Linked DNA regions of Homo sapiens: region 2 is linked to region 1. Evidence: fine-mapped expression QTL. Tissue or cell type: whole blood. Region 1 holds a variant in brackets; the other region holds the start of a gene. All regions are shown on one strand. Distances are from middle to middle.

Region 1 (8,102 bases):
TTCCTCAGTGGACTAGGTGGTTTAATTTCCATCACGGCTCTGACATTTTGGCATTCTATATTTCTGAGATTACTCCAAACTCCACTCAGCAGGAAGCTTCCCTTAGAGCTAATCTTGATCTCTTTCCCTGTAGCTCATGAGGGAGGTGACAGATGTGGTTCGGGAGTATACCTGGGGGACTCAGGGGCCTCTGCTCTTGGTTGTGACTCCTAGATTATTCCTGCCAGGCACACATGTAATGGGGCAGGGGCAGAGAGAGAAGGAGAGAGAGAGGAGGGAATAAGGAAGGAAGAGAAAGGAAAGGAAGAAAAGAGGGAAGGAAAGAAAAATGAAAGAGGGAAAGAGAAAGGAAGTGAAATGATATGAAAGAAGAAAGGAGGGGAAATGAAGGAAAACAAAAGAGAAAAGCAAAGCAAAAGGGCTCATCGTGGATGCAGAAAGCAGCCAGCCTTGCCAGTAAAGTAGCCAGGGGTACATGGAGGGGATACAGAAGGCTGTTTCTGGTTGTTGCAAACCCTGTCTGTGTGAATCTGTAAAGTGGGTGCAGTTCTGGGTCTTGCTGAGCCTTGGGCTGGGTCGTGCTAGGGCAGAGTGCTCTGGGCAGGGGCTGGGGTCCGGGAGTCAGCCCACTCCTCTGCCCAGGGCCTCCTGCCACTGCTTTGCTGCTCCTTCTGAAAACAACTGAAACCGCAAAATTGGCTTGTGGTCGGGTGACTATCAGTCACTGCTATTCAGCTTGGCTTCCTAGGATGACTAAGGGGGTTAAAAGTCCCTCCCATTAGCCCCCCAGATTTTCAGGGGAGTCAGAGGCCAAGACAGAACATTGTTTTCTTTGGAGGCTTTTGCTAGGGTCTGAGTTCCCAAGTGGCAGGGCCTGCGCGCACTGTGTCTCGCAATGTCTGTGGGTTCAGGAGCTGGGGGGTCACCAAGGTGGAGGTAGCAGTATCCCTGGGCTTGCACACCCAGCAGCTTGGAGTGGGGAGGGGTTGGGGTGGAGGACGCCTGGGTCATCAAAAGAGTCTCCTTTCAACATGCCTCTTCTGGTCCCAGTTCTCGGGGTAGCTAAGCTGCTGATGCTGCTAGTGGGACTGGGTATCATGGGTCCCCTTGGCAGGGCCTGGGCACCAGCTAGGCAGCCCAGCTGCTTGAGCTGCAGAGAGTGCTGGAACTGCCCCTGCTGTGCTGAACATCCCAGGTGCTGGGTCCTCCTGATTCCCCATGGGGTTAGAAAATTCACAACCTGGGAGGCAGGAGGGTGGGCTCTACAGGGTTCTGTATTCCCTTTTAGTGGCTCTGAGCCGTCTTGCTCTGACTCGATTTCTCCTTGAGATGAAAGGCTTGGATTATCTCAGCACTGACCTTTCGCGTATCTGTGATGCTAGAGAAGAAAGGGAAAAGGCAACCACTTTGTAGACCCGCAGGCCCCCTCACCACACTGCCCGGCTATCCAGAAGGTCCTGCCCACATCCAGCGCTGCCCTCCTCTCTCTTTGTGACTGCCCGTGGTCTCAGTTTCTCTCTTTCCCTCTCTTTCTTTCTCCCTCTGTCCTGCTCACTTTCTGTTTAGGCTCCCTCATACTCCCCCCACCCCTGACAGCGAGGTGCACGTGAGTTCTTCTGATTGCTGACCTAGACCTTCCTAACCACTCCCCGGCTGGGTTCAATTTCCCCAAGGGGTGAGACCCTCCCCAAACTCTCCCACCTACATCCAGGGTCTAGGGGTGGAGTTTTGATATCTCTTTGAGCCCTCAAACAGATGGGAAGGTTGAGGGTCTGCATGGCACGTCTGTGACCTGCCCCCACCAGGCCGAGGGTCCTCTGCTGGGAGGAGGAGCCAGTTTTCTGAGAGGGAGGTGCCGGTATCCTCAGAGACTCCTGAATTCCCAACCCTTCCCTCCCGAGGTGGGCGGGTCTCCTCACAGGGAGGCGGAGGGAATCCGCTTAATACCCAGGGATCAATGCCAAGCGGGGGAGCGGGACGCCGATCAGACATGTGACTCGGGAGGCATGATGAGCACGTGCAGACCCAGAACGTGTGAAGAACATACGTGTGGAAAAAGTTTGTGTCACTGATAGGCACATCAGAGGCATGACACCTTCCTTCCCTCCTCCACCCGCCCTCTCCCTCGGGGGGCTAGAGGGCCCCCCTACATACCAACCACACACGTGTTTTAAGTGTGTGTGCACACGCACACATGCAGCCGTCTGGAAGAGCATGGCCGGGGAGCTGGGCTGGAGGGGTGGAGGGGGAAGGGAGAGGAAGGCAGGGTCGCCCCACCCCCACCCCGTGCCCGTGCCTACCGAGTGCCGCCTCCCGGTGGCTGGTGAGGTCTCTGCCCCCTTGACTTTTCCCTGCTTCGAGGAAACACCTCCCTTTAGGGGAAAGCGAGATGGTGAGGGGAAGGAGGGGAAGCACTGACTCTCGGCAGAGGCATGAGCCTGATTTTCCAGTCCGGGGAGGGGCGGAGGGAGATGGCACTGGGGACGCCCGGGCGATGGGGCCTGACTCAGAGCCAGAACCACAGGGCTCCTCCGCTGTATTGTCGTCGGGGAACTAGAAGCCACCAGGTTTATAAGAAACTGCAATTCATCTCTGCCCTCTTCCACCCCTCTGCAAGGGATCAAGGTTAGACTAGAAGAAGAACTTATAGCCCGGGGCAAGAAAGGGACTCTGCCTCAGGTGATTTTTTTGGAAGCCTTCCCTGGGTTTCTTCGAGAAGAAGGGCCTGCCCCAAGGGGGTTAGATCGTAAGAAGAGCCTGGGGCCAGGGCGTGGGGCCCCCCATTTCCCTGTTTGTTGTCAAGGAAAGCCCCCTCCTCACTTCCAGCCCGGAACAGGAGCTCCTAAGAGCTGTCGACAGAGCTACTGCTGAGGCTGCGGCAGGGGCATACAGGGATCCCCAGAATCCCAGGCAGTCTGGCTGGCATGGAGGGGATGAGGCAGCTGGTGGCTCCACTTGGCTCTGCTGCCTCACTCTTGGCCACTGGCTCACGTGTCCCAAGGTGAAAAGCAAGAGGGAGGAGAGTGCAGGTTCGATTAGCAGGAGGGCAGAGCAGAAGGTGTGATGAACTTAGGCGTGGGCAGAAAGACGGAAGCACTGCCTGGCAGGGCACATGCCCAGTGGCATTCTCTTCCCATTCTAGGAGCTGCCCAGGCCCCTTCCCTCCTCAGGCAGAAACACCTAACAGCTTGGATGGCTGGCAGTGGGCTCCGTTGCCTGGGGCAGGGAGTTTGGAGAAGTGAGGAAGGCTCCTGCCTCTCACTCCACCTGGAAACCAGGACTCCTGGGTCCTTCCCATCTGGACTCATCTTCCTCCACTGCCACAGTGGCTGCTGTGTGACGAAGCTAGTCCCTGCCCCTTTCGGTCTCTCAGCCCTGCTTCCCCACTCCTACCCCATCAGCAGGATGGGATTTGCTGAGTAACGGGGTCGGGTTCTGCAGGGTCATCAGACAGAAAGGACACCAGGAGAGGTGAGAAGAGGCCTGGGTTGAGGGAAGGGTAATGTCAATTAGGACACCAGGATGACTTCCCAAAACATAGGGGAACACTCACTGGGTGACATAGAGGGCCCTTCCATCTTGCCTTTCTCCAGAGGGAATAAGGAGAAGGACTCAGCCCGGGTTGGGTTGGGTACCTTATAAGGAGAGAGGGTCAGGGGATAAAAATAACTGAGAGCCTGGGAAAATTGTGTCACCTCTCTGAGCACCAGCTTCTCATCTGCAAAATGGGAACGATAGTGTCCTCTTCACACAGGTGTGGGAGGCTCCACTCAGGAAAGTGCACAGTAAGTGTTCATTAGGTCACCAGCCATGTGATCTTGACAAGGTATTTAACTTTTCTTTTTTTTTTTGAGACAGAATCTCTGTCTGTTGCCCAGGCTGGAGAGCAATGGCACGATCTCGGCTCAGTGCAGCCTCTGCCTCCTGGGTTCAAGCAATTATCCTGTCTCAGCCTCTTAGTATCTGGGATTACAGGCATGTGCCATCACGCCCGGCTAATTTTTGTGTTTTTAGTAGAGATGGAGTTTC[A/G]CCATATTGGCCAGGCTGATCTCGAACTCCTGACCTCCAGTGATACACCCATCTCAGCCTCCCAAAGTGCTGGGATTACAGGCATGAGCCACTGTGCCCAGCTGGTACTTAACTTTTTTTTTTTTGAGATGGAGTCTCGCTCTGTCACCAGGCTGTAGTGCAGTGGCACAATCCCAGATCACTGCAACCTCCAACTCCCTCGTTCAAGCAATTCTCCTGCCTCAGCCTCCTGAGTAGCTGGGACTACAGGCGCGTGCCACCACACCAGGTAATTTTTGTATTTTTAGTAGAGACGGGGTTTCACCATGTTGGCCAGGATGGTCTCAATCTCCTGACCCTGTGATCCTCCCGCCTCGGCCTCCCAAAGTGCTGGGATTACAGACATGAGCCACTGTGCCTGGCTGATACTTAACTTTTTTATATCTCAGTTTCCTTGTCTGTAAAATGGGAACAATGGTTCCCACCCAGTTGCCTTCACACCATTGTGAAGTCTAATGAAATCAAAGGTATATTGACTAGTCTTAACCAAAAAAAAAAAAAAAAAAAAGAAGAGAGAGAGAGAGAAAGAAAGAAAGGAAATAAAGGGTACGAGTTGCCTGGGGATGTTCTTTTTTTTTTTTTTTTTGACAGTCTCTCTCTGTTGCCCAGGCTGGAGTGCAGTGGTACAGCCTCAGCTCACTGCAACCTCCGCCTCCCGGGTCCAAGCAATTCTCCTGCCTCAGCCTCCCTAGTAGGTGGGATTACAGGCACCTACCACCACGACCAGATAGGTTTTTTTGTATTTTTAGTAGAGATGGGGTTTCACCATGTTGGTCAGGCTGGTTTCGAACTCCTGATCTCAAGTGATCTGCCCACTTCGGCCTCCCAAAGTGCTAGGATTACAGGCATGAGCCACTATGCCTGGCCGGGATATTCTCTTATCTCATCCTTTACCCCTCAACCCAGAGTGGTGATAGGAGGAGGGGGTTAATTAGGAAGAACTGGGGTTTTTACAGTTTCCAAACTCACTGGGAGTCAAGGATTGAGACAAAGTACAAGCTAGATTTGGCAACATCCAGGGTCATGCATGGGAACCTGGGAGCCCCATGCCCCACTGCCTATTTGCAGGGCCCTGGGTCTTGGGTGGCCCTAGTTCAGTGTGTGCATGTGTGTGAAATGCAAGGTGATGAGGTCAGTATCTCAACTCCCAGTTACTGGTCCAGTTGCTAAGAACTTGCCTGACCATAACCATCCTTTCCCAACTCACAGAATGTCAGGTTCTGATGCCAGTGATTGGAAAGAAATGGCGGTGAGCAAGGAGAGGGGGCAATGCTGGGCAGCCATGCCACCTTTATGTCCCCTGTGGCCAGAGACGTGGGTCCAGGGCCCTTCTCAGTGCCCAGCTCGGTCCAGCCAGCTGCCCATGGCCCTGGTGGGAGGAGGTAGGCTGGACGCCTTCTGACACTTCCTGGGTAACTGAGCGGGGCAAGCAGCAAACAGCAGGCTCCTGGGGAAATCTCAGACTTGTGTGTCAGAGCGGATCTGTGTCTGGGGTGGTAAGTGGGGTTAAACTCAAGGTCAGACCTAGCCAATCCATTTTCGCGCCAACATGGCCTTGGGTGTCCTCCATTCCAGTGGCTGGGACCCAGGTGCCCACTCAGCTGGAGACAGCACTGCTGGGAGCCTAATGCCTGGTTTGTCCCTCTGCTTCACACACTGGTTGCTTGCCTGATTTCTGCCTGTGCCTAGGATTTATAAGGAAGGGAGTTGTGGCATGTGGATCCCAGGCCTCCGTTCTACTCCCAAATTTCAGGTGCTAATCTCTCCATGAGTTTCAGTGACCTCAGAAAAGGAAATGGGATTAAGCTGCAATTTAAGGGGTTGTGGGAAGACAGCTGAAAGAATGTCCCAGTCTTCAGTAGAGGAGGTGGGAGGTGGCTGTAAACTGCCTAAATCGGGGGAACACTACCAGGAATCTCAAATTGCTGTACAATGCAGACACAGTCAATCAGCCTCCACCTACTTAGATCTCTAAGTGCTTAGAGATCACCAACCTGTCCCAGGCTCCTGAGTCTATTACCTCACTCCTCCTTGTTCTCTGCCTTTCCCAGGCTACTGTGGTTATGATTTGTGGCAGAAGTTGGGAAGGCAGAAAAGGAGAGAAGGAGGGAAAAGGACAATCTGAGAACAAGCTGGAGGGCCAAAGTGGACCCCTTGCAGAGTTGGCAAGATGGCAAAGGGGATGCAGTGGCAGGTGAATTAGTTCAGATGGGCAAGAAATGTAGGATAAGTCAGCAAGCTGCCTTTGCGCAGGAGATCCCTAGGTGAGAAGGTAAGAAGGGCTTCCACATGCGGCAGTAGCCTCAGTGTTTCTGGAATGGAGTTTGTATATATGTTGTGGGTGGGGTAGGGGGAACAGAAGAAGAGCTGCAGCATCCTGCCTTTGAGGAGGAAGATGGTACAACAGGAAGGCCAGGAGGTGGGCTGCAGGTAAAATGTCCCCGTGAGACAGGGTTGAGGGAAGCAGAGGGCCAGCTGCTGGGCCTGCAGCCTTCTTGCCCCCACTCCCAGCTCACCCGCCCACTGCAAACACTCCTCAGCTCCCCCACCCCATTCTGGCCCACAGCCCTGGGGAAGCGACATGGCGTTCTCACCACGGACCCAGTGCCGGCTGTGGCTTCTTCCCTCTGACCTATTTTTTAATCATTTGATGGGATTTTTCCCCCCCAAACCAAACCCCCAGCCCCCTGGGCCCGTCAGCTCCACCGCGTGTCAAAACCACCCCTGTCACTTTGCGTTGGTTTCTCAGTCCAGCCAGCCCCTCCCCGCAGGGCCTGAGAGCGATGGCTAATTACCCAGCTGCTGAACGCCCCCCACTCCTGCCCCTCCACCCCTAGCCCTGACAGAGGGGCCCTGGAGGACTGCTGGGAGAAGCTGGGGCCTCCTCACCCTCCCACTGCTTGGCAGGAAGTCCTTCCTGCTGTCTAACCTCCATTCTTCCCTCTGTCCTGCCCCTAGTGGTGCTGAATCGCAGACACAGAGGCTGTTGGTACTATAAGGGTCTTTGGGATACCTCCTTAAGGGACAGAAAGGGGCAACTAGTCTTCTGTCCTGGGTTTAGGGATGTCTTCTGTCACTCTGGCTCTCTAACAGAATTCTAGGGGATGGTCCTTGCTGTCTCATTTTACAGAGCAGAAAACTGCGACACACAGAGGGAAAGGGCCTAGCCCAAGGTGATCTACGCCAGTGGCGGAGCCAGAATCAGAACCTAGAGTTCCATGTTTGTCTTTCCACCTGTTTCTGGGTCCTGTTTCTGGTATGTAGAGGGCCCACCCCCACATACCAACTAGGTCTGTTTCTGTTTCTGTGCAACTCCGCTGCCAGCCCTGAGCAGGTGTGTTCCCTGCCATGCCCTCTCTCCCTTGCCCCCTGGCCACACAGAGCTTCACCCTGGCATTTCAGGGCTGGGCAGCTTGCTTCAGGCACTATTTAGGAATGGGACTCTTTCCCCCAATACCACCCATGCCCTTTTCCCTCTTCCTCTCTCATTCATCCCTAACCAAGTCCGTAAGTCTGCTCTGTCTCACCCGCACCCTGAGACATTAACCAGGTGGACAAGGCAAAAAGCTCTAGGCCAGACACAGGAAGGCCAGAGCCAACTCACAGATGAGGCCTAGTCCCAGATGGACAGATAGACATGCAGGAGATACATGGAGCGCTGGATAGCCCTGGAGACACGGACAGTGACATGAAGATGCAGAGACAGACACAAACACGCTACAGAGACAAGGCAAGTTCCGAGGCCCACAGGTAACAGACAGACACAGAGACGCAGACAGAGGCACAGAACCTACACTCAGGACCAGCGTGCAGACCTCTCACAGGTCCCAGGGATAGGAGTGGACGTAAAGAGGATACACAAGACGCAGGCAAAAACACAGGGACCCAGAGAGGGGCCGAATCAGACCAGAGGAACCCAGACACTCAGGAGCCCTGAGAGACATGGGCACACAGGGCTGCCCACAGATCCCAGGAAGCCAGAGAGAACCTTGGGGAGAGAGGAGGCCCCAGGGGGTGGGTGGCCCTCTGAAGGA
Region 2 (8,102 bases), 400 kb before region 1:
GGAATAATTAATATAATTAAAATGCCCATGCTACTCAAAGTGATCTATAGATTCAATGCAATTCCTATCAAAATTCCAGAGTTATTTTTCATGGAAATAAAAAAATCCTAAAATTCATATGGAACCGTAAAAGATCCCAAATAACCAAAGCAATCTTGAGCAAAAAGAACAAAGTTGGGCCAGGTGTGGTGGCTCACGCCTGTAATCCCAGTACTTTGGGAGGCCGAGGCGGGCAGATCATGAGATCAGGAGTTCAAGACCAGCCTGGCCAACATGGTAAAAAAAAAACCCCGTCTCTACTAATAATACAAAAAAATTAGCCAGGCGTGGTGGTGCGCGCCTCTAGTCCCAGCTACTTGGGAGGCTAAGGCAGGAAAATCACTTGAACCCAGGAGGTGGAGGTTGCAGTGAGCCGAGATTGTGCCACTGCACTCCAGCCTGAGAGACAGAGCCAGAATCCATCTCAAAAAAAAAAAAGCAAAAAAAAAACAAAGTTGAAGGCATCACAGTCCCTGACTTTAAAATAAACGACAAAGTTACAGTAATCAAAACAGCATGGTATTCCATAAAAACAGATGCATTGGCCAATAGAACATACTAGAGAGTCCAGAATTTACAGACAATTGAATTTTGATAAGGAGCCAAGAACACTCAATGGGGAAAGGAATCTCTTTGATAAAAACTGTTGGGAAACCATATATCCATGTGTAGAAAAATGAAATTGGACCCTTATCTCACACCGTATACAAAAGTCAAAATGGATTAAAGACTTACCTGTAAGACTGGAACTACTAGAAGAAAACATAGAGGGAAAGCTACTAGAAGAAAAAATAGAAGAAAGCCACTAGAAGAAAACAGGCGGAAAGCTCCACTACATTGGTCTGGGCATTTTTTTGGACATGACCTCAAGAACACAGGCGAGAAAACAAAAAATAAACACATGGAATTACATGAAACTAAAAACTTCTGCACATCAAAGGAAACAGTTAACAGAGTGAAGAGACAACCTGCTGAATGGGAGAAAATATTTACTAATTATACATCTGACAAGAGGTTAATATCCAAGATATACAAGAAACTCAGTAGCAAGAAAGCAAATAACCTGATTTTAAAAATAGACAAATAATCTGAATAGACTTTTAAAAAAAATTTTTTTTTGTAGAGATGAGGCTTCACTATGTTGCCCAGGCTGGTCTCAGATTCTTGGGCTCAAGCGGTCCTCCCACCTTGGCCTCCCAAAGTGCTGAGATTATGGGTGTGAGCCACCATGCCCAGCCTGACACAGCCATTCTTAAAAGAAGACATACAAATGGCCAACAGGTTTGCGAAAAAAAAAATCACTATTATTAGGGAAATGCAAAATAAGATTACAATATCACCTCACACCTGTTAGCATGGCTATTAAGCTGGGTGTGGTGGCTCACACCTGTAATCTCAGTACTTTGGGAGGCTGAGGTGGGCAGATTACTTGAGGGTCAGGCGTTTGAGACCACCCTGGCCAACATGGTGAAACGCCATCTCTACTAAAAATACAGAAATTAGCCAAGTGTGGTGGCACATGCTTGTAATCCCAGCTACTTGGGAGGCTGAGGCAGGAAGATTGCTTGAACCCAGGAATGGAGGTTGCAGTGATTTGAGATTGTGCCACTGCACTCCAGCCTGGGCAACAGAGTGACTCAATCTCAAAAAAAAAAAAAAAAAAAAAAAAAAAGAATTGCTATTATCAAAATGATGAAAAAAATGTGTTGCTGAGGATGTGGAGAAACCTTTTACACTGTTAGTGTTATTACAGCCATTATGGAAAACTATATGGAGGTTTCCCAAAAAATTAAAAATAGAACTACCATATGATCCAGCGATGCTATTTCTGGGCATATATTGAGTAACTGAAATCAGTATATCAAAGACTTATTTGCACTTCCATGTTCATTTCAGCATTATGCACAATCGCTGAGATAATGGAATCAACCTGTGTCCATCGATGGATGAATGGATAAAGAAAATGTAGTAAACATATGCAATGGATACTATTCAGCCTTAAAAAAGAATTTCTGTCATTTGTGACAACATGAATCAACATATGCAATGGATACTATTCAGCCTTAAAAAAGAATTTCTGTCATTTGTGACAACATGAATCAACTTGGAGGACATACTAAGTGAAAAAAGCCAGGCACAGAAAGACACATACCACATGATCTCACTTATATGTGGAATCTTAAAAAGTCAAACTCATAGAAGTAGACAGTAGAATAGTTGTTAGAGGCTGGAAAGGGACGGGGCGGGTAGGAGATGCAGGATGGGGAGATGCTGTTCAAAGGGTACAAGGTTCAGTCAGACAAAAGCAGCAAGTTTCTGAGATCTATTGCATAGTGTGGTGACTATAGCTAATAATAATATATCGTATATCTCAAAACTGCTAAGAGTAAATTTCAAATGTCTCACCATAAAAAACGTTAAACAAGGTGATGGATATGTTAAGCTTGACTTAGTCGTTCCATATTGTATACATATATTAAAATATAACATTGTACCCCATTAAATATTTACAATTATGATTTGTACATATATTTAATAATAATAAAAATCTAAATAAAATATTAAAGAATGCCTACAAAGCAAGGTTTAAGATGTAAATGAACACAGTAGTATCACGGAAGGGATTAAATATTGTAACATTTATTGAGCACTACGTATATATTTTTGAATTCCCACAACCCTGGAAGAATGAGAAAATCGAGACTCAGGGAGCGTTAAGTATTTTGCCCAACTGCATACGATAAATACATAGGAAAAACAAACACACAGAAGAAAACCAAACCAACCAAAGTATCTCTTTCAAAAGGAAACGACAGTCTCCTTAAAGGCAACCCGAGACAAATTTCAGCAAAGCCGTGGGACACATGGCCTTCGAGCTGCTGTCCATTATTGAGTAGCAGAAGCCAAGAAGGATGGAATGTTTTGGAAGAAAGGGGTCGGGGGTCGGGGTGTTCAAAGGACGGACCGAAGGTAAGATTGAAGTGGGGTCAGACCATGGCGGGACAGCGCACCGGAGAATGAACAGCGATTAGGGAAGAGTGGCGAGCGGGTGGCAAGGACGGAGGGCGGAATCCCGGCCGGGGCTGCGGGAGGAAAGCGCACGGACAGGAGCCCCACCGCTCGAATGCAGCGCCCGGCGGCTGGCCTCGTGAGGTCACAGGCCCTTACGAGGTGGGGCAGGCAGGCGCGGCCGCAGTGCCTTCCAGTCAGCGCGGAGGCGGTATTGAGTTCAGCCGCTCCCCACAGCCCCGGAGCCCCTGGGCGGTGGCGGTGGCCGCGGCAGCACCGGCTCGACAGCCGATAGGGTCCTGGGCCCGCTCCGCTCGGGGTGGTCGGTGGGCGGAGCGTCGGGCTCGGTCAGGTGACCGCGGGGGCGGGGCCGCGCGGCGCGGGATCCTGGGAAGGCTGCAGAGCTAGAGCAGCGCCGCCCGAGGGGCGGCAGGGGCTGACCACAGAGAGCGCGGGGGCCTCCAGCCGAGAGGAAGGGAGGGCAGCTCGGGCCGGTAGTGGGACCCTTGGGGGACAGAGGTGGGGAGGGGAGGCGAGACCCGCTGAGGAGTTGGGAGGGGAGCCTTCGAGGTGGAGGGTGGAGAATGCAGTAGGGTGCGAGGGAGGAAGGAGAACAGTGGTGGGGCTGGGTGAAGGAAGGTTCCAGAAAGGAACAGTGAGGGGACTGAGTGGGACAAAGGGGCAGATTGAAGGGTGACTGAGACTGATCAGGTGGTTCCTCAGAAATGGTGGTTGTTGTAGAAGGCTGGCGGTCCCGGGGGTGGTGTCACTTCCCTGCTCCTTCAGCGGGAGGCGGAGACCTCTATTAGCACACTCATTTCCATCTTGCGGGTCGTTCACTCGCTAGCTTACAGGTCCTCTTTCTTCCTGTAGAAGTCGTTGGCTTCGTAAGAGCAGGGTCTATGGGAAGCCTCCTCAGCGTGGGTTCTTGGAAGAGGTGGAGGTTCGTTCACTCGACGTTTGTTACACAAATATGAAAACAGGGTGACGAAAGTTTGAACGTTCATGAATGGCAGTAGCTGCAATGGAGTTGTGTATGCAGTTGGTATTAATGACGTTTTCAGTCCCTCTGGCGAGAGAAAAGCGAGCGAGTCGGGCGGCTTGTGAGGGAAATGTGGCATGAGAGGAAAGAGGAAGGTATTTTGTGAAAGGATGTCATACAGAGTCATGCTTCAGTGAAGACGCCTTTGTTTTTCTCATCTTAAAGCCTCACAGCCCCATTTTCCTCTCAGCTACTGCCTTATTTCTCTTAACAACGTAACTCCTTGAAAGAGCCTACCCTACTGGCTGGGTTCAATTTCTTTACCCCGTTCTCTCTTGTACTCACTCTGACGACATTGTCTCCTTACCACCCCACCCAGATGGCTCCTTTCAAGTTTGTCAGTGTCCTCCGTGTTGTGAAACCTAGCGAACCATTCAGTACTGATCTTAACCGCCCACCCCACCCCCCTTTTTTTTTTTTGAGACAAGGTCTCTGTCGTCCAGGCTGGAGTGCAGTGGTGCAATCATAGCCCACTGCAGCTTCAAACTCCTGGGCTCAAAAGATCCTCCTGGCTCAGTCTTTGGAGTAGCTGGGACTAAGGTCGCCATGTCCAGCTGATTAAAAAAAAAATTCTGTAGAGGTGGGAGTTTCACTGTTGCCCAGGCTGGTCTTGAACTCCTGGCCTTAAGCAGCCCTCCTGCTTAGACCCCCACCCCCGCATCAAAGTGTTGGGATTACCTGCATAAGCCACCATGCACAGCCTGATTGCTCACTCTTGAAGTACTTTCTTCACTTGGCATTCAGGAACCCAGACCTACCTGATTTCCCTCCTCACAGTAACCAGAGTGATCCTTTCAGAAAGAACTTCAGATTATGTAATCCTTCTCCTCAGAACTCTTTCAATGCTTGTCACTCCTTCAGAGTACAAGCCACAGTTCTTACTGTCATCTAGGGGTCCTCCATGATATGCCACTTTCACTTAGCCTCTCTGATCTCTCCTGCTTCAGCCTCCTGGGGCCTTCCCACTATTCCTTGAACATTCTTCTTGCCTCGGGGCTTTTGTACTTACTTTTCTTTCTGGCTGAAATGCTCTTCCCTAAGATATTAATCAGCTCCCTACTTCAGTTCTTGCAGGTCTGTACTCAAAAGTCTCCCTCTCAGTAAGGTCTTCCTTGGCCACCCATTCTGTTCCCTGCATCTCTTCCCCTATACTACATTTCATATTCCCCTCCCTGCTTTACTTTTTTTTTTGTACTTATTGCAGATAACATACAATATGTTTTATTTTTCTATTTTATTATTTCACTCCCTGACTAGAACATAAGCTTCATGAGGGCAGATTTTATATATATATAAACAAAATATATATATATATATATATATATATATATATATATATAGCATATATATATTTTGTTCATTGGTATATCCCTAGAGCCTAGGAGAGAACCTAGTGCACACTAAGCATGCAGACATATACGTTGAATTCATGGATAGAAAGGTGAATGGATAGATGACTGGAGAAAAGGGATACGACTCCCTCCATTTCTCTTGATTTGTTCCTGCAAGTTCACCGATAGAAGACAGGATTGAAATAGTTGAGAAAAATTATATTGTCAGAGTTACAGGGAATAGACTTTCTAAGTTAATTTTTTCTTTTAAGTTTGGAGAGGCTTATGCGGTACCTGATTCATCCAGCAAATTAAGACCTGCCAACTTTTTGATAATCTCGTCAATAAATTACAGAACAATTGTTCCTTTCAAGATTTATTCAAAACGTGTCAACTCTGCTTAATTAAGCACTTTGATGATTTAAGAAATCTTGGTGAGTAGCTTAGTAGGAAGGGAATTTGTTCATTCATCCCTCTCTCCCTCTCTTTTCCCCTCCCTCCATACCATTCCTCCTTTCCTCTACTCTTTCCTTCATTATATATATACCATTGTATTTGATACTGTGAGAAATAATTTTAAGAATGATAAGTTACCAGTCCCAGTTCTTTATAAATTTAGGCTATAGTTGGTATAGGAGCTATACATATGAAAAATACAAATACAAGGCAAATGATTAATGTCAGTTAAATAGTGAAGACAAGAATAGTGAAGGCAGTAAGTGCTATGCACAGTAGTTTAGAGGTAAATATTGAACTGGTTGGAGAAGATCTAGAAGAGATTACGTAGGATGGGTTACTGGGGAGACCTGCATAGATTTCCAGTATTTTCTGAGATGAGTATTTTCAATGTGGTTCTATTTTATTTTAACATATTTTGAATTCCAGGAATGTTGGACATATCACATTGAAAAATAATGACTATAAACATATGTCAGAAATAAATAAAAATGATTTTAAGTACTCTGTCTTCATTAGAATATTAATACTTGCAGTTAAACTTTACAAGAAAAAGACTGATGATTATAACTAGCAATGTAATATAATGTAATATAGCTAGCACTGTGATAAATAGCTCATAAAATGTAACTCAGATGTGAGTTGAAAATATGAAAATTTGAGGAATTTCTAAGTGTTGGTTATCACATTTGCATAATGTGAAAGTCTTGAGTTTGAAGTGAGGCTACACCATCTTTTCTTTCTTTATTTTGTTTTGTTTTCTTTTGTTTTGTTTTTTTTGATACAGAGTCTTGCACCCAGGTTGGAGTGCAGTGGCGTGGTCTTGGCCCACTGCAACCTCTGCCTCCTGGGTTCAAGCAGTTCTTTGCCTCAGCCTCCTGAGTAGCTGGGATTATAGGTGCGTGCCACCACACTCGGCTAATTTTTGTATTTTCAGTAGAGACGGGGTTTCATCATCTTGGCCAGGCTGGTCTTGAACTCCTGACCTCGTGATCCACCTGCCTTGGCCTCTCAAAGTGCTGGGATTACAGATGTGAGTCACCATACCTGGCCTTTTTTTTTATTTTTGAGACAGTCTCACTGTATATCCCAGGCTGGAGTGCAGTGGTGCGATCTTGGCTCACTGCAATCTCCGCCTCCCAGATTCAAGCGATTCTGCCTCAGCCTCCTGAGTATCTGGGATTATAGGCGCATGCCACCACGTCCAACTAATTGATTTGTATTTTTAGTAGATACGGGGTTTCACCATATTGACCAGGATGGTCTCAATCTCTTGACCTCATGATCCGCCCACCTCGGCCTCCCATAGTGCTGGGATTACAGACGTGAACCACTGCGCCCGGCCTACACCATCTTTTGTTTGCAGTAGCATTGTTTTGAAAGGCAATGTTCTATGGGACTGAAGACCACAGGCTTGGAGTTAAATTGTCTGAATTCAAATTCTGTCTCTACTATTTGCTGGCTGTGTGATCTTGGGAAACTTGACCTCTTCAAGTCTTTATCATGATATTTAGCACACAGTAAGCATTCAGTAACATGAGTGATTACTACTGTCTTAGCAGTTCTGCTTCTCAGGGTTTATTTAAATAAACAGATGTAATTGGATTTCTCAGCTTTGTATGCCATTTGAAACTGGATTTCTCAAACCACAAAAGGTAAAGTTAAGGAATTGGATGATCTGTGATTTATAGTCTACTAACTGCTTTTTCTAGTGTTTGCCCACATATCTGTGTTGGTGAAATGTTGTGTATCATACCCCAAGTCAGTGTTACATTGAAGAGATAACTTCAGGTAGGTAAATATAATTGCTTAAGTGTTCTAAACAAGCGTATGATTTCTTCTTTCTCTTTTTTTGGCAGGAAATCCTTTTGTACTATTGCTCATTCATACTTGTTCATCAAAGCCTGGAGTCCTTAAGGACAGAATTTACCTCTAAACAGAAAGATGGAAACTAAAGTACATTTATTCTGCCAGGTATTTATTTAAAACAGTTTCTAAAGATTTCTTCTTTCTTCTTTTTAAAATTAGTTTACATTACCTCATATTCATAATCAGTAAGCAAATTCATAGAGTAATAGTTATAAGGAACCTGGCCAAGTAACTGAGATGATGTTTGAGTCATTTTAGTGAACATGTATTGAACTCCCATCCCTACAACCCATATAATACTGAGAGATCTTCTGTGGTGTATGATGAGAGTATTTTGGTGGGGTACGGACCTGGAT

Evidence for each region. PIP is the estimated chance that this variant, and not a neighbour inherited with it, causes the effect.
Region 2: EFCAB13 starts here. The variant in region 1 is fine-mapped to the expression of EFCAB13 in whole blood (INTERVAL, PIP above 0.99).

The regions. Positions count from the first base shown.
Region 1 is chr17:47,718,913-47,727,014 of GRCh38, forward strand. No RefSeq gene overlaps it. Among named protein-coding and RNA genes, the nearest start is that of TBX21, 10 kb to the right of the region's middle. The variant A/G (reference allele first, on the strand shown) is at 4,030.
Region 2 is chr17:47,320,533-47,328,634 of GRCh38, forward strand. EFCAB13 (EF-hand calcium binding domain 13) reads left to right here and starts at 3,423. Exons shown (of 25, transcript NM_152347.5): 1 at 3,423-3,542; 2 at 3,922-3,991; 3 at 5,694-5,855; 4 at 7,737-7,851. The coding sequence starts at 7,822. EFCAB13-DT (EFCAB13 divergent transcript) reads right to left here and starts at 3,369. Exons shown (of 3, transcript NR_110880.1): 1 at 3,157-3,369. RefSeq lists a silencer at 3,152-3,561 and enhancers at 3,902-3,991, 4,032-4,211.